Linked DNA regions of Homo sapiens. The protein of the gene in region 1 interacts with the protein of each later gene in a pairwise test. Each region holds a gene or a part of one and is shown in the gene's direction. Other genes may lie near its edges.

Region 1 (7,039 bases):
AGAGGGGAGATATGGGTGTTGATAAGTAAGAATCCCCATTGCTCATAGAGGATAAACTTTATAAATAAGTCAGCAGGCCAGGGACGTTGGCTCATGCCTATAATCCCAGTGCTTTGGGAGGCTGAGATGAGCAGATCACTTGGGGTCAAGAGTTCGAGATCAGCCTGTCTAAAATGATGAAACTTCATCTCTACTAAAAATACAAAAATTAGCTGGGCATGGTGGCATGTGCCTGTAGTCCCAGCTGCTTGGGAGGCCGAGGCAGGAGAATTGCTTGAATCCAGGAAGAGGAGGTTGCAGTGAACTGAGATCACACCACTGTACTCCAGCCTGGGTGACAGAGTGAGATTCCGTCACACACACAAAAAAATAAATAAAACAAATAGTATATTATGAATAGTAAGAGATGACTATAACTATCAGATGTTAACACTTTGGAGGTGGAAAAACAGATTTTTATCCTCTTTTTGGTTTTTCATTATGAGTCTAGATTTGTTTTTAATGATGTATATGTATTGTTTTGATAATTTAAAAAATGTGGCCATGCAGACACACATTGTAAAGGTGAAATGGTTTCACAATCTTAGTTATGTCAGTTATGTTTTACATTTAATGAATTTAGCTAAAGAACATGCATGGATTTCTCAGTAGAGAGCTATAGTTAAGGTTGTAAGTTCTGGAGTTAAATGACTTAGATTTAACTACCTTGGGGGGTAGATTAACCTCTAAACCCCAGTCCCTTTTTTTTTGCTTTGTTTTGTTGTGTTGCTTTTTGTTTGTTTGTTTTTCTTATTTATTTAAGACCCTAGTCTCTTGAACTATAAAGTGGGGCTGATAACATGTATCTCGTAGCATTGTTCTGAGGATTGAATGAGATGGTCTGTTCAAAGTGTATCAAAAGTAACCAGCATGTAGTAAGTTCTCAGGAAATGTTATCTTAAAATAACAATAAAATGATTTACCAGAATGAACACACTGAAGCAGTAAGTTCCATAATTAATTTTACATAAGTTATCAGTAACTAAAATTAATTATATCTATTCTTTAAAACATCATGGAAATCATTGATTACAAAATTATTGGATATTCATTATTACATTGAAAAATGAAGCTGGCCAGGTGTGGTGGCTCATGCCTTTAATCTCAGCACTTTGGAAGGCTGAGGTAGGCAGGTTGCTAGAGCTCAGGAGTTCAAGACCAGCCTTGGCAACATGACGAGACCCTGTCTCTACAAAAAATACAAAAATTCACTGGATGTGGCACACCTGTAGTCCCAGCTACTTGGGTGGCTGAGGTGGGAGGATCATTTGAGCCCAGGAGGTTGAGGCTGCAGTGAGCCATGATAGTGCCTGGGGAACAGAGTAAGACCCTGTCTCAGAAAAAAATAGAGAGAGAGAGAGAAATAAAGAAAGAGAAAGGAAAGAGAAAGGAAGGGAGGCAGGGAGGGAAAGAAAATAAAACAAAACAAAACAAAGGAAAGAAAAATGAGAGGCCAGGTGCAGTAGCTTGCTCCTGTGATCCCAGCTACTCAGGAATCTGAGGTGGGAGGATCTCTTGAGCCTAGGAGTTTGAGGCTGAAGTGCACTGTGATTGTGCCACTGCACTCCAGCTTGGATGAGAGAGTGAGACCGTCTCTGATGAAAAGAAAAATGAAGGCTATAGTTTCATAAGAGTATAAACTTGGGGCCAGGCGTGGTGGCTCACGCCTGTAATCCCAGCACTTTGGGAGGCCGAGGAGGGCGGGTCACGAGGTCAGGAGATCAAGACCATCCTGGCTAACACAGTGAAACCCCGTGTCTACTAAAAATACAAAAAATTAGCCGGGCGTGGTGGTGGGCGCCTGTAGTCCCAGCTGCTCAGGAGGCTGAGGCAGGAGAATGGCGTGAACCCAGGAGGCAGAGCTTGCTGTGAGCCGACATCACGCCACTTACACTTTTAGCTTGGATGACAAAGTGAGACTCAAAAAAAAAAAAAGAAGAATATTAACTTGGAGGTAGCACAATCTGGGATTATATCCTGACTCCACTATTTTCTCAGATATATTATGATAAAAATATTATACTTATATAAACTTGGAGAAGCTTTTTTCTTTTTTATTTCAGCTTTATTAAGGTACAGTTTACATAAAAGTGATGACTTTTATGTTTAAAATGTGATGGGTTTTGACAAAAGTATACAGTGTTACAACCATCACCGTGATCGTAATAGAACATTTCCATCATTGGAAGAGCCTCTTAGCCTCTTTGAAACCCAGTTTCTTTGCATGTTACATAGAGATAAAAGCCAGCAACCTCGGGTGGCTGTATACACAGGACCTAATATATACAGTCCCTGGCACATAGAAGACATTGCTAGTGTTCTTATCATACTCATCATTTTTTTTTCTGTTATTTTCTAGCTTCTGAAAGTTCTGCTGAAGACAGTGAGCAGGAAGATGAGAGAGGTGCTCAAGACATGGATAATAATGGCAAAGAGGAATCTAAGATTGATCATTTGACCAACAACAGAAATGATCTTATTTCAAAGGAGGAACAGAACAGTTCATCTTTGCTAGAAGAAAACAAAGTTCATGCAGATTTGGTAATATCCAAACCAGTGTCAAAATCTCCAGAAAGATTAAGGAAAGATATAGAAGTATTATCCGAAGATACTGATTATGAAGAAGATGAAGTCACAAAAAAGAGAAAGGATGTCAAGAAGGACACAACAGATAAATCTTCAAAACCACAAATAAAACGTGGTAAAAGAAGGTATTGCAATACAGAAGAGTGTCTAAAAACTGGATCACCTGGCAAAAAGGAAGAGAAGGCCAAGAACAAAGAATCACTTTGCATGGAAAACAGTAGCAACAGCTCTTCAGATGAAGATGAAGAAGAAACAAAAGCAAAGATGACACCAACTAAGAAATACAATGGTTTGGAGGAAAAAAGAAAATCTCTACGGACAACTGGTTTCTATTCAGGATTTTCAGAAGTGGCAGAAAAAAGGATTAAACTTTTAAATAACTCTGATGAAAGACTTCAAAACAGCAGGGCCAAAGATCGAAAAGATGTCTGGTCAAGTATTCAGGGACAGTGGCCTAAAAAAACGCTGAAAGAGCTTTTTTCAGACTCTGATACTGAGGCTGCAGCTTCCCCACCGCATCCTGCCCCAGAGGAGGGGGTGGCAGAGGAGTCACTGCAGACTGTGGCTGAAGAGGAGAGTTGTTCACCCAGTGTAGAACTAGAAAAACCACCTCCAGTCAATGTCGATAGTAAACCCATTGAAGAAAAAACAGTAGAGGTCAATGACAGAAAAGCAGAATTTCCAAGTAGTGGCAGTAATTCAGTGCTAAATACCCCTCCTACTACACCTGAATCGCCTTCATCAGTCACTGTAACAGAAGGCAGCCGGCAGCAGTCTTCTGTAACAGTATCAGAACCACTGGCTCCAAACCAAGAAGAGGTTCGAAGTATCAAGAGTGAAACTGATAGCACAATTGAGGTGGATAGTGTTGCTGGGGAGCTCCAAGACCTCCAGTCTGAAGGGAATAGCTCGCCAGCAGGTTTTGATGCCAGTGTGAGCTCAAGCAGTAGTAATCAGCCAGAACCAGAACATCCTGAAAAAGGTGAGAAGGAAAATGTGTATGTTGACTTATTTTAGGGTTTCCCCTCTTAAAGTTTCAATGATTTCACAGTATCTCTTGTTATAACCTGAGGCGATTAAGTGTCATATTTGTGTGAACATGGTAAAAATGGAAATTTTAAAGGTAATTTGAAAATGAATAGTGGAATGCATTTAAAAGCTTGAGAAGGCTTTAATGTGCTTTGCTTGAGCCATCCATGGCATTTTATTGTGGACCAGAACACATGCTAGAAATTGCACCCAGGCCCAAATCCAAACCTGTTTGAGAATTCATTATATGCAGTGGTTGACTATATGGCATGAGCAGCTTAAATCTATTTCTGTAACATTGTTTTTGCAATTGTAATGTGCAGTTTCTCACGAACATTTTGATTTATTGACAGACCCCTCCACCCTTAACCAAATACTGTATGTAGGGGTTTGGAGCAACCAACTGTCCAGGCACTGCTTTCCTCAGACAACCGTGTCAAACTGATTTTCAAGCCTGACTAACTTGTGTGAGTTTGTAAAGGAATTTGATGCTTTCTTAGATGCATAGCTTCCAAATTGAAGGACCAATGTGTACGTTAATAACCTACAGTAATACTTTTTTGATTTTCCGTGAAATTGTTAAAAGTGGAAATTCAAATCGGTACCTTCCCAAAGTATTAGTGCCTTTCGATGGTGCCATAGCCATACTTCTGTCATCATTTTTCTTATAAACCACTTCATTCAGGTATCTTTAAATCAGTATACTCTAGGCTGACACCTGGCTTTGGAACACACTTTTCCATCGTAAAGACAGAGCACTGGAGTATGTTTTTTATATACCGTAAAAGATTTTAGAATGCTAGCTTTAGGTTTTCAGCAAAGCTTAAAGAGATATGGTCTAGATCAAATTAGTTAATTCTATGTTTTCTCAGGAATCTTGACTTAAAACATTTCTGTTTTAAAATAAATTAAAAAAATACTTGCAATTAAATTGAAATGTTCTTTGCTTTTTTTCACATTTACAAGTATAACTACTATGATTTTATCTGTGCCATACTATCTCATGCAACTGAACTATCCAGGCATGACTAATCTTCAAAATGAAAGAATCCTTTATTTCAGAATATTAGGCTTTCAACAGTAAGATTTTACTGGCCAGGTGTGGTCACTCACACCTGTAATCCCAGCAATTTGGGAGGTCTGGGAGGTCAAGGCGGTGGATCGCTTGAGTCCAGGAGTTCAAGACCAGCCTGGACAACATGGCAAAACCCCATCTCTACCAAAAATACAAACGTCAGCCAGCTGTGGTGGCGCATGCCTGTAGTCCCAGCTACCTTGGGGGCTGATGAGGGAGAATCACTTGATCCCGGAAAGGCTGCAGTGAGCCAAGATCACGCCACTGCACTCCAGCCTGGGTGATAAAACAAGACCCTGTCTCAAAAAAAAAAAAAAAAAAAAAAGAAAAAACAAGAAAAGAAAGAAAAAAACAGGTTTTATTGTTATAGGTTTTCTTGGGGGTTTTTTTTTTGAGATGGAGTCTCGCTCTGTTGCCCAGGCTGGAGTGCAGTGGTGTGATCTGGGCTCACTGCAACCTCCGTCTCCTGGGTTCAAGTGATTCCCCTGCCTCAGCCTGCTGAGTAGCTGGGACTACAGGCGTGTGCCACCATGCCCAGCTAATTTTTTGTATTTTTAGTAGAGATGGCATTTCGCCATGTTAGCCAGGATGGTCTCTATCTCTTGACCTCATGATCTGCCTGCCTTGGCCTCCCAAAGTGCTAGGATTACAGGCATGAGCCACCGTGCCTAGCCTATTGTTGTAGTTTTTAAGAGGTTGTATCCTTATTATGTTCGTAATATCTTACAAAAGATTAAAATTAACAACAAAAAAAAAGAGGATATCTTCTCTGCTAATAGACTAAGTCAACACTGCCCTTTTGAATCTTAATCTTGACTAGGTTAATAATTGTGGAATTTGAAAGCTACTCCTAAATTTAGGGTAATTTATATCTCTTTAGAAATAATTGGTGTTTTTCTTTTTGTTGGGTTTTTTTTTTTTTTTTTTTTTTTTTTTTGAGACATAGAGTTTTGCTCTTGTTGCCCAGGCTGGAGTGCAGTGGTGCAATCTTGGTTCACTGCAACCTCCACCTCTCAGGTTCAAGAGATTCTCCTGCCTCAGCCTGCTGAGTATCTGGGATTAACGCCCGGCTAATTTTTGTATTTTGTTTAGTAGAGATGGGGTTTCGCCATGTTGGCCAGGCTGGTCTACGAACTCCTGACCTCAGGTAATCCACCTACCTTGGCCTCCCAAAGTGCTGGAATTACAGGCATGAGCCACCGCGCCCAGCCAGAAATAGGTTCTTAAGCACCTGTTTCACATGGCCACATTTTAATAAATTTACTTACTATGAATATTGGAGACTCCCCACTATATCACAAGTTAAAATTTAAGTTTTACTATTTAGATGTAGTTTTTTCCTCTTAATTTACTCTACATTGAAGGTTTTTATTTCTTAGTATCTGAACACTTTAGAATTAAACTCTCTTGGAGAGAAACCTGACAATTATGGTTCTGTGCTTCAGTATGGTCAATATCTACGTCTCCTTTATGTTTCACTTAAATTGTGATATTAAAATGACATTAGGTGGGTCACATACTTGGTGTAAAAAATAAAAAAGAAATATTAAAAATTTAAAAAGGTATTAGGAAAAGTTGTAAGTAAGATTATATGACCCATTAAAAAAAAGCTAGGAAGTTGCAGACAGTTAATTACTTGTCCTGTTTTTGATCAAGGAAGTTAGGTTTTATACACAGAAGGTTGATTTGGTGTCTGACATTGGAACTGAATGGAGATAGTACTTTATTAGTCTCTGGAGAAAAAATCTTACTTTATATAGTCTGAGAGATAACATATATGAATTAGACAGAAATATAGCAGATGTTAAGGACCAAATGAGTAGTATAGAAAAATGCTACAGTTCAGAGTAGTGATTGATCAGTGAAGCCTGGAACATCTTAGTGAAGATGTAGGACTTGGGCTAGTCCTTGAAGAAAAGGGAGACATTTATTTGTAATGTTTTGCAATAATTTCCCACCAAGAAGATGAGACGTTTTTTAGAACTACTATGTTGGATTTGTAAATGGTATGCATGTTAACCAAACAGTGCCCTGGGAGCTTAGTTATTCTTGACATAAATTGGTAAAAAAGAACCAAGTATGAATTACTGCTAAAATTTACCTCATTTATATCATTTAAAAATTATATTAATATGATTATAAGACATAATGTCATTAACATTTTAACCTGTGATTAAGTCTTAATATTTTGGTTTTATTGAATCTTAACAAATTTCAGTTTTTATTTTCAGCATATACTTTTAATTACTAGGCTTATAAACTCCCAGTACTATATTAAGGACTATTTTCAGTTTATATCTGATTTTTTTA
Region 2 (6,560 bases), on another chromosome or scaffold:
AAAGAAGAAAAAGAAGTTGCTTACTAAAGGTTTAAGGAAGCAATTAACATTTCAAAAAAGGAAGGGGCATAAGCTATGAGCTAAGACTTGCCTGGGCCTGTCCAGACATGCCTGAGTAAGCCAAAGCAACTAACTGGGCTCAAGTGTAAGAACTAGTAGTTGAGAGGAGGCTTTAGAGTAAGGAGCTATTATTTATAGTGTCTATTATTTTATTTTTAAACCAAGATGAATTTTGAAGAAAAACTTTACTACTTTCTACATCTTCTCTCCTAGGACCTTGTCTTTTTTTGAGCAAAAGTTTTTTTTTCTTCTCAGACGATGACATTCTGTTTTCTTCATCTACTTCTGCTGTCTCTCCTTTATTTTGCTACCCTCTGTTGCATGAGGGACGTAAAATAGTTTATAATTGCCTGCATTCCTTAAAGAAAATGGAGAAGATGCCACACTCCCTTTTGGGGAGAAACCTCTATTTTTCCCAAGAGTGTAAACACACAAGTTCATCTCAGATCTTAAGCTGCTTGCTTTTGTATTGTGTTACTTGATTTTTTGACTAAAACTGTTATTAGTTTATTCTTGGATTTTTAAGGAAGAAAGTAGCTTGAACACTTAGAAATGTCTTTGTTAAAAAAAAAAAAAAGGACACTGTAAAAGCATCACTTGGTGTAGCCTCATAGTAATTCTCCCTTTTTGGAGAACTAGGATTCAGTGTGGGCTCTGCCCAGAGCTCAGAGATCCAGTTAAAAGACAGGTAGTCCCTATCTAAATACAACTGGTCTCCTTATACAATCCTATAATATATTTCTACAATTTTGTGTTTGATTTGGCATCCATCTTCAATCTCCTTCTAACATCACCAGACTCTTTCTCTCTGTGCTTTGAGAAGCAAATTTCACTATCTGATTTTTTTTACCTAAGGGTTCCTTTAATATGCACATTTAGGGCTATCTAGCTGACAATTGCCTAGGGCAATAAAATAGGTTATGAAGAAATTGTAAATCTAAAATACAAGGAAAAAATAAAGGCCTTAGGAATTTATAAGATCTACTTCTATCTACATGTCTAATACATCTATGTATTTATGTGTCATGGATATGACATTTCACTACTAAAAATGTAGAAAAGAGCTCTAATTAATTGGCTTAACAAAGGCACTTAAATCTAATGCTTTTCAGAAAAATAGACTTTAAGCCAAATGCTTTTTCAAGTTCATGTGACTTAAGCAAATCTTCAATAAACAAGCTGGTTTTAAAAATTTTAGTGAAATTGAATTAGAAATGGCTTTGGAATTCTCAACATACATTATTTATCTCTGCTAGATGTCAACATTTGGCATAAGGGTTCTAAAGCTATGAATGCAGCTCAAATAAGAATTATCTTTGTTTATGTAAAATTTAGTAAGTAAGGAATTTAATATTGTTTGGTTAATGAAAATAGCTAAATCCTGAGTTATTGCCAAAAAAACAAAAACAAACAAACAAATAAACAAAAAAAGACCCTTTATCTAACCTTAATGTTCTTACTCAGGACAACCTGAAATTCACAGGTTATAAAAATGGTTAACAAGGACATAACTTTAAATGGTAACTATTACAGTTTTCATAAGTAATCTGGGTAAACTATTAGAAAATTAATTAATTACACAAATGTAACAGAATAAGTTCTTGTAGAATATCTTGTCATATAATTTAAAATCCAAAGTTATATTAAGCTAAATAGTAGATATTTATTACACGTCTGGGTCATTTCCAATTTTTTTAATTATAGGAAAACATTTTTCTGTAAAAAAGAAATGTGATCTTAAAGGAAAATACTTTTTGTCTAATTCGAAGCTTATCTAAAAGTTATTTATGAAATTAGGTAATCAGTGAATAAAAACAATGTGAAGGAAGTTATGAACAGGCATTTTTGGCACAAAAAGTTAAAAGGAAAATAATTTTATCTGAGCAAGAATCTTGTATGGTAAATTTTTGTTCTAAAATAAAATAACTGGTTATTTAAGAAAAAGGAAGCCTAGGCATGGTGGCTCATGCTTGTTAATTCCAGCATTTTGGGAGGCCGAGGTGGATGGATCACCTGAGGTCAGGAGGTCGAGACCAGCCTGGCCAACGTGGCAAATCCCTGTCTCTACTAAAAATACAAAAATTAGCCAGGTGTGGTGGCACGTGCCTGTAGTCCCAGCTACTCCGGAGGCTGAGGCAGGAGAATTGCTTGTACATGGGAGGCAGAGGTTGCAGGGAGCCGAGATGGCGCCACTGCACGACTCTAGCCTGGGCGACGGAGGAAGACTGTATCTCAAAGGAATAAAGAAAGAGGAAGGGATAAAACAGAAAGTCCAAGCTGTCATAAATGATTTGTATAAAGTTGTCTATAATTAAAGGGAAATTATTTATAATAGTCTTTCCAGATTTAGCTTATGATATTAAAAAAAACACTAAAAAAATTCATCAGAACAATAAAATTTTCTTAAGGAGTTGATTTACTCTTAATAAATTAAAAGATTTTAATTCTTTAAACCCAAAGTTTAACTTTTATCACATCTCACCATTTTCGGTTTACTCTCCTCTTTTAAAAGGTGAAAATAATAACTCTCTCTTTCAACTCATTTTCAGCTCATATAAGTTTCTTCTTTTTTTCTCTTGTGTTCTGTTTGTTGTGGCCTCATGCTAAAAATGTTTTTTTTTCTATTTCTTTTTTCTTTTCTTGAGGTGGGGTCTCACTCTGTCAGCCAGGCTGAGAGTGCAGTGGCACAATCTTGGCTCACTGCAACCTCCCCCTTCCAGGTTCAAGCAATTCTCCTGCCACCACGCCCGGCTAATTTTTGTATTTGTAGTAGAGACAGGGTTTCACCGTGTTGGCCAGGCTGGTCTCGAACTTCTGACCTCAAGTGATCCACCTGCTTCAGCCTCCCAAAGTGCTAGGATTACAGGCATGAGCCACTATGACAGGCCAAAAATTTTTTCTTCAAGGTCTAAAAAAGTGTTTTCTTCCATCTGTGTAACTTTCTGTATGTGCTTTTAAAGTCCTTGTGCCATTGAGTTATAGGGCTTTGACTTCTGGGTCTAAAAAGGACACCAAGTTCTGCTATATCTTAAACACTGACAGCAATTACAGCCTCATTTTCAGGCCCAGTAGAAGATGCTAATCAAAGTAAACTGCGTTCATGAGATGCAGGGCCAGAAATTAAAACTATTCAACTCCTCAAGGCCCAAGGACTATCGTGGAAGAGGTGGGCATGTGAGATTGTAAGGGCTGATATTAAGAGAAAAGTAGCTCAGTTTCTCTAGGAATTAACCATTAATATCAAAGGCACACTAAAGCAAAACCAGTATCTAGGTTGCTGTGTCAGTTTAACAAGGCTTTCTTGGAGCATTAACTCACTCCTTCATGCAAAATGATGAAGGTTACAAGGTTTATAGAAATTATATTTTATACTCAAGATGATTAAACTTTTATTATACAATTTCAAAAAAACAAACTTAATTTGCCGCATCCTGTTTTTAATTAGGGCTTATTGTTTGGGATATTAAGCCTCCTCTCTCAAAGAATAAAGATTTTCACCTTTTTTTTTTTTTGAAACATTTGAGTTACTGCTTTGGTTAAATGAATGACTTATTTTACAATGACCCATGACCCTATTTCGTGATATCAAGCATTTTAAACTTTTTATCTTTGACGAACTTTCCAAAGTCAAATTCTAACTTCATTCCTCATTAATTTTTTGATATGAGTCCTCTGAAGTCCAAAAGAGACATATTGGTCTTATTTGGTATAAAAATCATACAAGAAGCATCATCAAATATAAAATGGTGTTTGACTTTCTTTGGGCTGTATTTATAGAAATGTCATTGATATGTGCTCCAAAATTATGGGAAACTCTTATACTTCTGAAATAACTTGTGTATGTTATTAATTATAACTTTTATGTTAAATTCTTGTATGCTACAGAAGTAACCAAAATTTACTTGTCAATGGTGGTTTTAATAATGGCCGTCCTGGCTGGGTGTGGTGGCTCACGCCTGTAATCCCAGCACTTTGGAGGCCAAGGCAGGTGGATCACGAGGTCAGGAGTTCAAGACCAGCTTGGCCAAGATGGTGAGACCCCGTCTCTCCTAAAAATACAAAAATTAGCCGGGCGTGGTGGCACAGGCCTGTAATCCCAGCTACTCAGGAGGCTGAGCCAGAGAATCACTTAAACCCAGGAGGCAGAGGTTGCAGTGAGCTGAGATCATGCCACTGCACTCCAGCCTGGGCAACAACAGTGAAACTCCATTTGAAAAAAAGAAAAAAATATACACCCCTGATTTGAAACAAGACTAGGATACACGGTAAAGAATGTTTATTCACTAAAGTTTTGACAGACTGAAGGCCATTATTTCAGATTGGAGATAGGAAACTTAAAAGAACTACATGGACATTGGGTAAAAGAACATGGGTTGAAATTTGCCTGGCAGTAGCCCAAAAGTAAATGGTCTTCGAGGTGCATGTGAAGGAACTGTAGGAGGGAAATGGGATAATTCACATCTCCGCCAATAAATAAATGTAGCCACACTAGCGTGGGGGATTTGAGGTGAGACATCGAAAATACTAAGTCATGGTGAGGGCTGGAAGACAAAAGAATGAATCACTTAATAGGAATGGCTGTGGGGAAGGGCTTGAAGGAATCATCCTCTGACTTCCATGTGAACCGTGAACATTAAACATGGAGAAATGAGGAGCGGCGGCAGATCGGTTTGGGATGCATCTTCAGGGGATGCTGAAACAACAACAGCATTTGGTTTGCTCTACACCCCTGTCACCCCTCGCCCGCAAGCCCAGGGAGTGGTCAGCAGTGGGGCTTTGTGACGTCGAAGCCACCCTAGGGCTGCCATTGGCTGGGACACTGCCTGTATGATCAAACAAAGCTCAAGGGTGTGGCTTTGCCTTGTCACCAGGAGGGTATGCATAGGGAGGGCAAGAGCTCTGGGCCACTGCGAAGATTCAAAAGCTCCAAAAACCTACTGTAGACATCGAAGAACCAATATATACAATGGGCCAACAATCCAGTGTCCGCAGGCTGAAGAGGAGCGTCCCCTGTGAATCCAACGAGGCCAACGAGGCCAATGAGGCCAACAAGACGGTAAGATTGTTAGGTTCTGAAGTGAAGGCGAGGGTGAAAGAAAGACACACAGAGCGGGGGCGGCTCAAACAACAACACAGGAATATTGCAGACCATTGTGGAAGTGGGGGGCCCGCTTAATGCCAGAGCCCACCGCCGCTTACAACCTGGGGTGCTTGTAGGTAGGGGTGGGAGGGGCCTGGGCAGTATGGCTTGCTGCCCGGCAGGATATTGATAAGATGTTCTTATGATCAGGTGGTTTGGCCCTTTTTCTGGTGGAATATCATTGTGGTGTTCCTTAGAACGCTGCCAAGCAAGATATGATAGGGATGTTTCTTCAGTTGGGCCTTTGTCCGCCTTGCGGACAGGTGGTTAGGCAGGATGTTTCTCACGGCCTGAACCCCCATGGGATGTTTCACTTTGACCAAGGTCTGCAAAATAGCAAAGAACTGACAAAATGGTGCAGTTTGGACTCACAGGTGACCCTACCCACGCTCCTCTTCTTCTTCCCCATAGATCCCTACTCTGTGCTTCAACCTTCTTCTTCTCTGGATCAAACCCCTTCCTCAACCTGCATTCCTTCTTCTCATGAAGCCCCCTTGCTATCCAGTCTCTATCCTGTTCACCCAAAATAATGTCCTCCTGGCCTCTCCCTGTTTTCTTAACAGATGCCGGAGACCCCAACTGGGGACTCAGACCCGCAACCTGCTCCTAAAAAAATGAAAACATCTGAGTCCTCGACCATACTAGTGGTTCGCTACAGGAGGAACGTGAAAAGAACATCTCCAGAGGAACTGCTGAATGACCACGCCCGAGAGAACAGAATCAACCCCGACCAAATGGAGGAGGAGGAATTCATAGAAATAACGACTGAAAGACCTAAAAAGTAGCAAGAAGCTACATCCCTCAAACTTCGGCAATGAAAATAAAGTTTGAGAAGCTGATGGCTGTGTATATCTCTGCCTGTTTTCTGATGGTGGGGGGTGAAGGGAAGGGAAGAGGTAGGCATTTGAGAAGGGAGGGATATGAGGTCCTGTAGGGTTGGTGGACAGACCCACAGGTTGACAGTAAGCCAGACATTGTAAATAAGGCCTGGGGGAGGACTGATTCCTAAAGAAAATTTTCTTCTTAAAATTTTATCTCACAGGAAGTGGAGATGTGTATATGTTCACGCAACTGTACCCGGCAGCACATAGTTCTGCTGAATGGACATATCAAAGGTATTCCCATCCCCTTTCCATTTGATATTTTCCTAGGTTAGAAATATATGCTTTATAAAGCGTAAATGTTCTGTAAAACACAAAGCACAATACAAAAGAAGATAGTAGATGTAGGAGTAAGTAAACGGCAGGAAAGCATTGCATGTAATGAAATGATTGAAAAGCCAAATTTTAAAACAAAATGTACACTGCATCTTAAATATTTATGTTACTGTTTTAATAACCTCAGCAGTGTTTAATCAAGA
Region 3 (4,468 bases), on another chromosome or scaffold:
AGACCCCATCTCAAAAATATAAAAAAAAAAAGAAATATGTTACATACCAGGCCTCCTGGGTTTGATATTAACATATTTACTGTAACTCTGTATCTTTTGTTTTTTGTGTTTTTTTTGAGATGGAGTCTTAGTGTGTCTGGAGTGCAGTGGCATGATCTCGGCTCAGTGTAACCTGTGCCTCCTGGGTCCAAGCGGTTCTCGTGCTTCAGCCTCCCGAGTAGCTGGGGGATCACAGGCATGTGCCACCACACCAGGCTAACTTTTGTATTTTTGGTAGAGCTGGGGTTTCCCCATGTTGGCCAGGCTGGTTTTGAACTCCTGACCTCAAGCAATCTGCCCACCTTGGCCTCCCAAAGTGCTGAGATTACAGGTGTGAGCCACTGTGTCCAGCCTGTATCTTTCTTTAGGACTGTCCCCTACCTCCTTTACTCTCTAACAGATTTCTGCTTATCCTGGTGAATCCTATTTAAGGGAGATGGAAACAAACCTGGAGGTTGATTACAAACTGCAGAGGCTGAGAAGGGCAGCTTGCTGGCTTTCAGCCAGTACTCTCTCTTGGCTAAGGGATATGGGACTTTATGTGTACATAGGCAGCAAGGCCAGCCTCAGAAGGAGGGGCCAGGCTTCCTGCAGTTTCACAGCCACCACTCCAACCTGGGTCTCATGTCTGTGTCCTTTGTTGTAGGAAGGAGGGTGATTCAGAGTTCATGAATATCATTGCCAATGAGATTGGGTCAGAGGTAAGAGGAGCATGAGATTCTCTACCCCGGCCTGGATAGAGACCTAGGGAGACATAAGTGAGGGGCGCTAGTTTAGCCAAAGTCCCTCCACATGAACACATGAGGAGGAGGAAATAGCCATTCATTCAATACTGTTTTCTTAGTACTAGCTATATGCCAAGCTCTGTTTTAGGTGTTGAGCTAGATCTATGTTATTGCTCTCTCTGGGGCTGTGATGTTTATTAGCTTCTGAGCTCCTTTCATCAGAGCTCTAGCTCCTCAAAGCCATTCAGGTTTATGTGTGCTGGGGATCCAATATTAGAAATATATCAGTGGGCTGGTCGCGGTGGCTCACGCATGTAATCCCAGCACTTTGGGAGGCCAAGGTGGGTGGATCACTTAAGATCAGGAGACCAGCCTAGCCAACATGGTGAAACCCCATCTCTACTAAAAATAGAAAAATCAGGCCAGGCATGGTGGCTCACGCCTGTAATTCCAGCACTTTGGGAGGCTGAGGCGGGTGGATTGCCTCAGCTCAGGAGTTCGAGACCACCCTGGGCAACATGGTAAAACCCTATCTCTACTAAAATACAAAAAATTAGCTAGGCGTGGTGGCATGCGCCTGTAATCCCAGCTACTCGGGAGGCTGAGGCATGAGAATCTCTTGAGCCTGGTAGGCAGAGGTTGCAGTGAGCTGAGATTGTGCCACAGCACTCTAGCATGGGCTACAGAGTGAGATTCTGTCTCAAAACAGAAGACAAAAATTTGCTGGGTGTGGTGGCAGGTGCCTGTAGACCCAGCTACTTGGGAGGTTGAGGCAGGAGAATTGCTTGAACCCTGGAGGCTGAGGTTGCAGTGAGCCGAGATTGCGCCACTGCACTCCAGCCTGGGCAACACAGACTGTCTCCAAAAAAAAAAAAAAAAAGTAAATACAGGAGTGGGCAAGCCCCTTTGAAAGCCATCCCCGTCCATTTTCCTCTTCCTCTGGCTTTACTTACTCTTCCCACTCCTGATGGTCTCTAGCCTAGAGATTTCCAGGTCTTTTGTTTGTTTGTTTGTTTGTTTGTTTTTTTCAGAGACAGAGTCTTGCTCTGTCACCCAGGCTGGAGTACAGTGGCGTGATTATGGCTCACTGCAGTCTTGAACTCCTGGGCTCAAGCAGTCCTCCCACGTCAGCCTCCTGAGTAGTTGGGACTGCAAGCATGAGCCACCATGCCCCACTATCTCTTTTGTATTTACTCCAGAACCCTTCTTTGGAATGCCTACTGTGGGTAAAGCGTTGTGTATCTCTCTTTTCATAATTCTTCTGTATAGACAGAACTGATTCTCAAGAAGCTCATATTCTAGTCTGGGAGACAAATATGTATGTCGACATTTATAATTCAGAATGATAGAGTGATGAATGCTAGAGGTGGAGGAGCACATTACCTGAAGGATAGGGAGGTTTCAGGGGAGGGGCCCTTGAAGACTGCTTAGAGGTCATCAGACAGACAAGGGGCAGAGGCGGCCAGGCAGAGGGAAACCTGGTGGTTTAGGCAGTGGCAGGGAAAGGATGTGTGGTGGGGAAAAGTTTGCAAGAGTGAAACCATGAAAGGCATTTTCTGCTTAGCCAGGATCAGCAGTCTTCTGCTGCCTTCTTAATGTTTCACCTAAGTTCCCATAGTTGCTCTCAAAAAGTTTCTTGGCCCTCGTGGGCCAGTGTGGAGGGGCTGTATCATCATTCATCAGGAGCGTCACTTGGTGGTTTAGGGGGAAATAATCTATTCTTAAGATTGAAGAGAGTGCAGGATTTGGGGGGTTGACTCTACATCCTTCAGTATCAGAGCTTATCTCCTTGTCTTACCTCCTAGGAGACCCTCCTGTTCTTAACTGTGGGCGATGAGAAAGGTGGTGGACTCTTCTTACTGGCAGGGCCACCTGCGTCTGTGGAGACCCTGGGGCCCAGGTAATTCTTTGTGGACTCTCTTGCACATGTAGTAGAGCCTGTATCCTACAAATACATTCCTTTACTGAGTCAAAGGACCATCACATCTGCGATCTCATTTAATTCACATCATGGGCATGTGAGGTGGGCTGAGCAGAGATAATTATTACTACTGTCATTTCCAGTTTGACAGTTGAAGGTCTTTTGGCTCCACATCTCACATGTATGTTTTTGTTTTTGTTTTTATGAAATGTGTTTGTTTTTGTTTTTTGAGATGGAGTCTTAGTCTGTTGCCCAGCCTGGAGAGCCCAGGCTACTCAGCTCACTGCAGCCACCACCTCCCAGGTTTAAGCAATTTTCCTGCCTCAGCCACTCAAGTAGCTGGGATTACAGGTGCACATAACCATACCCGTCCAATTTTTTGTATTTTTAGTACAGATAGGGTTTCACCATGTTGGCCAGGCTGGTCTCGAACTCCTGACCTCAAGTGATCCACCTGCCTTGCCCTCCCAAAGTGCTGGGATTACAGGTGCTCACCCTGCTCTCTGGAGATTAACATAATTTATCTAGCCCAATTCATAGACACTGATGTTGTTTCCAGTTATTCACTCTTATGTGATGATGGTACATATATCTTTGTGCATATGTGCAAGTGTTTTTTTGAGACAAAGTTTCACTCTTGTTGCCCAGGCTGGAGTGCAATGGCACCATCTCGGCTCACTGCAACCTCTGCCTCCCGGGTTCAAGCAATTCTCCTGTCTCAGCTTCCTGAGTAGCTGGGATTATGGCGCATACCACCATGCCCGGCTGATTTTTTTATTTTTAGTAGAGACGGGGTTTCATCCTATTGGTCAGGCTGGTCTTGAAGTCCTGACCTCAGGTGATCCACCCACTTTGGCCTCCCAAAGTGCTGGGATTACAGGTGTGAGCCACCATGCCCAGCCTATGTGCAAGTGTTTTCAAGAAAGATTCCTAGAAGTCATCTACTCTTCTTATCCCTCTCCCAGTCCCTGGAAAAAGACTCAGAGCTGCCCTTGTTTTTTTTTGTGACTTTTCCCTCAAAGTCTCCCTGACTATACCTCTGTTCCCCAGGGTGGCTGAGGTCCTGGAAGGCAAAGGAGCAGGGAAGAAAGGCCGTTTTCAGGGCAAGGCCACCAAGATGAGCCGGCGGATGGAGGCGCAGGCGCTTCTCCAGGACTACATCAGCACGCAGAGTGCTAAGGAGTGAGGGCTTAGGGCACTCACCTCCTGTTTCCACAGGAATCTTTTGGTCAATAAAATAGATTGACTCAGAATGGTTGCGCTACCACTTGTATTTATATGACTAATTCGTACTGTATACTCCATTGTGCTTGTGTGGTTACTTTCCGTTTATAAATAGATAATTTTCTAATTTAGTTCATGCACTGTAATGTTTAGAAGGTGGTGGATTAATTTATACCAAACCTTGTGCTTTTGCACTCAGTTGGATAAGAAATGAACATCTGATCAGCTGAGTCCACTGCTCCCATAATTTTGTTATAATCCACAAAGGCACATGGCTTTTTCCCGCCCCTACCGCCCCACCCCCTGAGATGGACTCTTGCTTTGTTGCCCAGGCTGGATATAGTGGTGTGATCTCAGCTCACTGCAACCTCTGCCTCCCGGGTTGAAGGGATTTTCCTGCCTCAGCCTCCAGAGTAGCCAGGATTACAGGTGTGTGCCACCATGCCTGGCTGATTTTTTTGTTTTTGTTTTTTGTTTTTGTTTGAGATGGAGTCTCGCTCTGTCACCAGGCTGGAGTGCGGTGGTGCGATCTTGGCTCACTGCAACCTCTACCTCCCAG
Region 4 (6,287 bases), on another chromosome or scaffold:
AGCATTAGGAACCCACTGGAGGTTGGTGATCATGATTATAAAGTGAGACTATTCAAAGAGATTGAGTGTTTTTCTCCAGACACATTCAGCCATACAAGTAAGGGCACTGAGTAGGCAGATAGATTTAACCAGCAAAGCAGTAGACAGGAAAGAAAGTTGAAGATATAAATATGACAATGATTATCAAGGCTGTCCGTGGAATTTAAGTTCCCAGTAAAGAGGGAAGTGAGAACCTGATGATATCAGTTTCCATTAAAAGATGGTAGGATAAAAGGATTTTTCCAGAGAGAATGAAAAATGGATAGATTTGGATATTTTTTAAAACTGAATTAGAAAGTTAGAAGGTGGTGCTGTGAGAATAAAATGTTGAAATTGTGATTATAAAGGGATTACAACTTGGGGTAACAACAAAGTCAAGGGTATGAGTCAGTGAGGTAGGAGGCAGAACAAAATTGTGAACTAAGAGGCTAGGACTTCAGGGGGAAAAATCTATGAAAACATTAAAATTACCACAAATTACATCAGAAGTAGATCGGCTGGGAATAATAGTGAATCAGGTGCTAATGTCTTCAAAAACTGTGGGAGAATGACAGAGATATTTGCTACACATATATCTGATGAATAACTGGTATACAATATTGTGAACCTGAGTTTTTTAAAAGTAAAAAAATAGAAGATAGGAGCATTTCAAATAAGAAGATACAAGAATAGTAAATAAGCATATGAAAAAATGATTCACTTTAGCCATAAAAAAGGATGAGTTCATGTCCTTTGTAGGGACATGGATGAAGCTGGAAACCATCATTTTCAGCAAACTATCGCAAGAAAGAAAAACCAAACACCACATGTTCTCACTCATAGGTGGGAATTGAACAATGAGAACACTTGGACACAGAAAGGGGAACATCACACACCGGAGCTCGTCAAGGGCTGGGAGGAGAGGGGAGGGATAGCATTAGGAGATATACCTAATGTAAATGACGAGTTAATAGGTGAAGCACACCAACATGGCGCATGTATACATATGTAACAAACCTGCACGTTGTGCACATGTACCCTAGAACTTAAAGTATAATTTAAAAAAAGGAAAAATGGTTCACTTTATTGGTAATCAGAAATGCAAAATGAAATAGCATTTTACTACAATAGCTTGAAAAAGATTTAAGAATGTGGCAATAAGAAATGCTTGCAAAGATTTAGTGAAATGGAAACATACTCTGCTCACGTGAATGTAAGCAGGGAAAGCCATTTTGAAAAAAGAATGGGGAAAGGGGTATTACCTGTTAATTTGAAAGGCATACACAGTACCAATTAGTGATCTACTCCTACTTTCCTCATAAAAGTGTCAGGAAAGAGTCTTTGATTTAAAGCCAGCTATATCTGTGCATTTGATTCCCACATCCAACACAACCTGGGTATTTGATTTTGAAAAATTTGCTTTACCAGGGAAGTGAGGATGGTTAATGCATACAAAAAAAAAACACAAAGAATGAATAAGACCTACTATTTGATAACTTAAAGAGTGTAACTGGTGTGTTTGTAACTCAAAGGATAAATGCTTGAGGAGATGGATACCCCATTTTCTATAATGTGCTTATTCACACTGCATTTCTGTATCAAAACATCTTATGTACCCTATAAATATATACCTCTACTATATACCCACACAAATTTTTTTAATTATTTTTTTAAGAAAAATTTGCTTTACCACTGAGCCTCAGGTGTTGTGAAGAATGAAGAAGATCGTTTTTAAAATACTCAGGACTGGCAGGGCATGGTGGCTCACGCCTGTAATCCCAGCACTTTGGGAGGCCGAGGCGGGTGGATCACCTGAGGTCAGGAGTTCGAAACCAGCCTGGCCAACAAGGTGAAACCCCCTCTCTATTAAAAATACAAAAATTAGACGGGCATGGTGGTAAGTCCCTGTAATCCCAGCTACTTGGGAGGCTGAGGCAGGAAAATCACTTGAACCCGGGAGGCGGAGGTTGCAGTGAGCTGAGATCGCGCCATTGCACTCCAGCCTGGGGGACAAGAGCAAGACTTTGTCTCAAAAAAAAAAAAAAAAAAAACTCAGGGCTGGGCACGGTGTAACCGCAGCACCCAGCACTTTAGGAGGCCGAGGCAGGCGGATCACTTGAGGTCAGGAGTTTGACACTACACTGGCCAACATGATGAAACCTCGTCTCTACTAAAAATACAAAAATTAGCCAGGCGTGGTGGCAAGTGCCTGTACTGCCAGCTACTCGGGAGGCTGAGGCAGGATAATGGCTTGAACCCGGGAGGCGGAAGTTGCAGTGAGCCAAGATCGTGCCACTTAACTCAAACCTAGGCGACAGAGTGAGACTCCGTCTCAAAAAAAAAAGCTCAGGTCAGATGCAGTGACTCACACCTGTAATCCCAGCACTTTGAGAGGCCGATGAGGGAGGATCGCTTGAGCCCAAGAGTTCAAGACCAGCCTAGGCAACATGGCAAAACCCTGCCTCTACTAAAAATACAAAAAAAAATAGCCAGTATGGTGGCACAGGCCTGTAGTCCCAGCTACTCCGGAGGCTGAGGTGGGAGGATCACCAGAGCCTGGGAGGCCAAGACTGCAGTGAGCTGAGATTGCACCACTGCACTCCAGCCTGGGAGACAGAGTCAGACTCTGTCAAAAAAAAAAAAAAAATTCAAGAATCATGGAAATATAAGTGTTCAATTTAAAAATTAATTTTATACGGCCAGGCGCGGTAGCTCACGCCTGTAATCCCAGCACTTTGGGAGGCTGAGGCGGGCAGATCACGCGGTCAGGAGATCGAGACCATCCTGGCTAACACGGTGAAACCCCGTCTCTACTAAAAATACAAAAAAAATTAGCCGGGCGCGGTGGTGGGCGCCTGTAGTCCCAGCTATTCGGGAGGCTGAGGCAGGAGAATGGCGTGAACTCAGGAGGTGGAGCTTGCAGTGAGCCGAGATCGCGCCACTGCACTCCAGCCTGGGCGACAGAGCGAGACTCTGTCTCAAAAAAAAAAAAAAAAAGAAAAAAAAATAATTTTATTAATATTGTTTTAAATTTTAATATGATTAATAATTTTATAACTTTTTAACTTTCAGGATGAAACTATTCACAAATGTTTCACTTTTTTTTTTTTTTTTTTTAGACAGGGTCTCACTCTGTTGCCCAGGCTGGAGTGCAGTGGCACCACCACGGTTCACTCCAGCTTTGACCTCCCGGGCTCCATCGATCTTGCCATCTCAGCCTCCCAAATAGCTGGGACCACAGGTACGCACCACCACGCCAGGCTAATTTTTGAATTTTTAAATTTTTCATAGGGACCGAGTCTCACCATGTTGCCCAGAGTGGTCTTGAACTCCTGGGCTCAAGCGATCAGCCTTCCTCAGCCTCCCAAAGTGCTGGGATTACAAGCGTGAGCCACCACTCCCAGCTTCACTCAGAATTTTAAAATCAATTTTCCCAAGTAGAAATCTGTATTTTCTGAATACTCCTAAAATGAAATAATTTAGTAGCATTAAAGGAATTGTATGTAGCATTTGGATGGGTCGGAGAGATCTGAGTGGTCTTTTCTCTAGAATCCCTGAAATCACAAGAAAACATGAGTTCTAAAGGCGAGCCATCTTTGAAATTCTATTACAGTTGTTATCATTTTTTCTGAATAAGTTATACTGATCATTCTGCCCCCTAGAGGCCTGTAAGAGTATTTCCCCAGCGTGTCCGACCAATTATAGCCACGGATACTGGACAGCACGGATACCTCCGCCTCTAGAGCGGGTCCTCCAGGGGGCGGAGCATTGCGTGACATTTTGCGACTTCGGTTCCGCTGCCGTCATTTACAACATAATTGGCTTTGCAGTGCGCATCCGGGTCTGCATCAGGAAGGCCCAAGGGTCCAACGAGCTAAGCTGAGCCCGGTGGCCGGCGAGGCACCACCAGCAGCCCAGACTACGGTCCCCCAGGAGGCGCCCCGGGAGCTCCGAGGACTCGCCCCGCGTCGCGCGGTCCTGCGCCCCGCTCGTCCCAACCAGCCTCCCCTACCACCGACATCTGTTACTTCAAAGAGGACTTCACCGCCGCGCTCCCCACGTCCGCTGCTAGGCCCAGGAGCGCCGTCCACAGCGCCGTCGAGGCGATGGTCAGCCGGCCCCGCAGCCCCAGCGCCTTCCCTGCTCCCTGGTGGGGACAGCAGCCAGGAGGACCCGGCCCTGCCAAGCGCCTCCGATTGGAGGAGCCCGCGGGCCCCGAACCCCGCGCGGCACCCAGCCTGGAAGACCCGGCGGGGGACCCGGCCGTGGACGCGCTCACCTCCATAGTGGTCCTGGCCGCGGGCTGTGCCCTGCGTGTGCCCCTGGACGACGTCGACCTGGTGCTGGAGCCCGCACCAACGTCGATCCTGCGAGTGTCTCTCGGTGGACACACCCTCATCCTGATCCCAGAGGTCCTCCTGAGCTCCGTCGACGAACGCTCAGGAGCGCAGCACGACTCGTCTGCCGGGCTGGAAGTGGACGTTTTCCTGGGCGCTGTCAGGGAGGACGTCGTCGTCGAGCTGGAATTCTGCGCATCTGTCCCAGAGATCGCCGCCCAGGAAGAGGCCTACGAGGAGGACGCGGACCCCGAGTTCCCGGAGCTCCGGATGGACTCCCCAACCGGCTCAGCCGCTGGGCTCTACCCCTCCTCTAGAAGTATGTTCATCCCCTACCGGGAGGGCCCCATCCCAGAACCCTGTGCTCTGGCCCCCAACCCCAGTTCAGAGAGACGTTCTCCACGCCCCATCTTTGACCTGGAATTCCGCCTTCTGGAGCCTGTCCCCAGCTCACCTCTCCAACCTCTACCTCCCTCTCCGTGCGTGGGGAGTCCAGGTCCCCACGCGCGCTCGCCGCTCCCGGAACGCCCTCCGTGCAAGGCCCGGAGACGCCTGTTCCAGGCATAGACCCCCACCCCCACGTACACACAACAATCCTGGCCGCTCTGCTGGAGGCCCTCTAGGATTGCGGGAATCTCTCACATTGAGTATCCAACAACCTGGAAATTGGGCACCGCGTGTTCGGACAATTGCTTTTTCGCTGCACACTACCGATAGTAGGAGATGAAGACGTCAGCAAGAAAAGGTATATTCTAGACCTCATCTTTAAATAGAAAATCTGCGCAAGGATACCAGAAAATGTGTCCAGATTTCTGGGCTTCTTTACAAGGTCATATTCAGATCCCTTCATTCTCCCTCGTTTTGCATCAGTTGTTTCTCTCAAATTCCAGTCTTTCTCCAGCATCATACTGCCACTCCCGTTTCTCCCCAAACCAAGAAATCACCAGATCTCTTACGTTGTTAGTTACCTTGCATTTTTTTCCCATGAATTTTGGAAGACTTAGCCATGGCTTTTCTTGGGGTTTTTCCAACTGCTCTCCAAGGAAACTGCCAAATAGTATGCTTACTATACAAGACTGTATGTTGCTTCTTCCTAGGAACCCCTTATCCTGCTGAAGTTTTCTTCTAGTCTTCTAATTCTAAATGAAAATTTGTGTTGAATTTTATCAGATGTTTTCAGCATGCATTGTGTTATGTATTTTTTTTTAATTTGTTAATCTGGTGATTTCACCCAATGGAAAGTGTTTGCATTCCTGCTATTCCACATTATTTTATACCTTTTAAAATCTACCCTGAGTTTTTTCTCATGTAAACCAAACTTCTAACTTTTAAAATGTTAGTTTATTACTGTAGTTGCCTCATATTTTTATATAGGAGATAAAAGATTACTGGTAAAGCTGATGTCAACAAGCTGGTTTTATTTTATTTAAAAACATCAATAACTATTCAGATCTACCACTATGCCTTACCAATTATTTCCTACATTTTTATTCTTACATTCCACTCCTTCACTGTAGCTTCAGTTTTCTTTTTGTGAAGAATATCCTTTAATATTTCTTTCCACTGTGTCTTACGTGTGATAAACTATCTTGCTTCTGTAAGTCTGAGCATGTTTTTGTGTGATAAACTTTCTTAGAATTGACTGTAAATGTTTTAATTACACCTTCATTCTTAATTTTAAAATGATATTTAACTACAGTACTTTAAAGATATTAGCCCGTTGTTTTGCCATTTTTTGTTGTTGCAGGATGTCTTCTGTCAATCAAGTTGTTAGTCCTTTTATATGTAATTTGGCTGTTCGTGTGTGTGTGTGTGTGTGTGTGTGTGTGCGTGTGTGTGTAGAGAGAGAAAGACTTTAAGACAGGGTTCACTCTGTCGCCCAAGCTGGAGTGCAGTGGTGCAATCACGGCTCACTGAAGCTTCAACATCCCA

What was found.
Region 2: the proteins of ARID4B (region 1) and SPANXB1 interact in binary tests that used the Homo sapiens proteins (3 or more experiments, as listed by UniProt).
Region 3: the proteins of ARID4B (region 1) and AARSD1 interact in binary tests that used the Homo sapiens proteins (3 or more experiments, as listed by UniProt).
Region 4: the proteins of ARID4B (region 1) and PRR23B interact in binary tests that used the Homo sapiens proteins (3 or more experiments, as listed by UniProt).

Annotation. Positions count from the first base shown.
Region 1 is NC_000001.11:235,178,153-235,185,191, reverse strand, and holds part of ARID4B (AT-rich interactive domain-containing protein 4B), read left to right. Parts: intron 1-2,398; coding exon 2,399-3,607; intron 3,608-4,007; coding exon of another isoform or gene 4,008-4,099; exon of another isoform or gene 4,100-4,121; intron 4,122-7,039. UniProt on the Homo sapiens protein: Acts as a transcriptional repressor. May function in the assembly and/or enzymatic activity of the Sin3A corepressor complex or in mediating interactions between the complex and other regulatory complexes.
Region 2 is NC_000023.11:140,997,668-141,004,227, forward strand, and holds SPANXB1 (sperm protein associated with the nucleus on the X chromosome B1), read left to right. Parts: upstream 1-4,926; 5' UTR 4,927-5,026; coding exon 5,027-5,116; intron 5,117-5,763; coding exon 5,764-5,985; 3' UTR 5,986-6,039; downstream 6,040-6,560.
Region 3 is NC_000017.11:42,949,996-42,954,463, reverse strand, and holds the end of AARSD1 (alanyl-tRNA editing protein Aarsd1), read left to right. Parts: intron 1-685; coding exon 686-740; intron 741-2,569; coding exon 2,570-2,664; intron 2,665-3,735; coding exon 3,736-3,871; 3' UTR 3,872-3,938; downstream 3,939-4,468. Other genes in the region: PTGES3L-AARSD1 protein, read left to right, coding at 686-740, 2,570-2,664, 3,736-3,871. UniProt on the Homo sapiens protein: Functions in trans to edit the amino acid moiety from incorrectly charged tRNA(Ala).
Region 4 is NC_000003.12:139,018,499-139,024,785, reverse strand, and holds PRR23B (proline-rich protein 23B), read left to right. Parts: upstream 1-3,859; 5' UTR 3,860-4,124; coding exon 4,125-4,922; 3' UTR 4,923-5,755; downstream 5,756-6,287.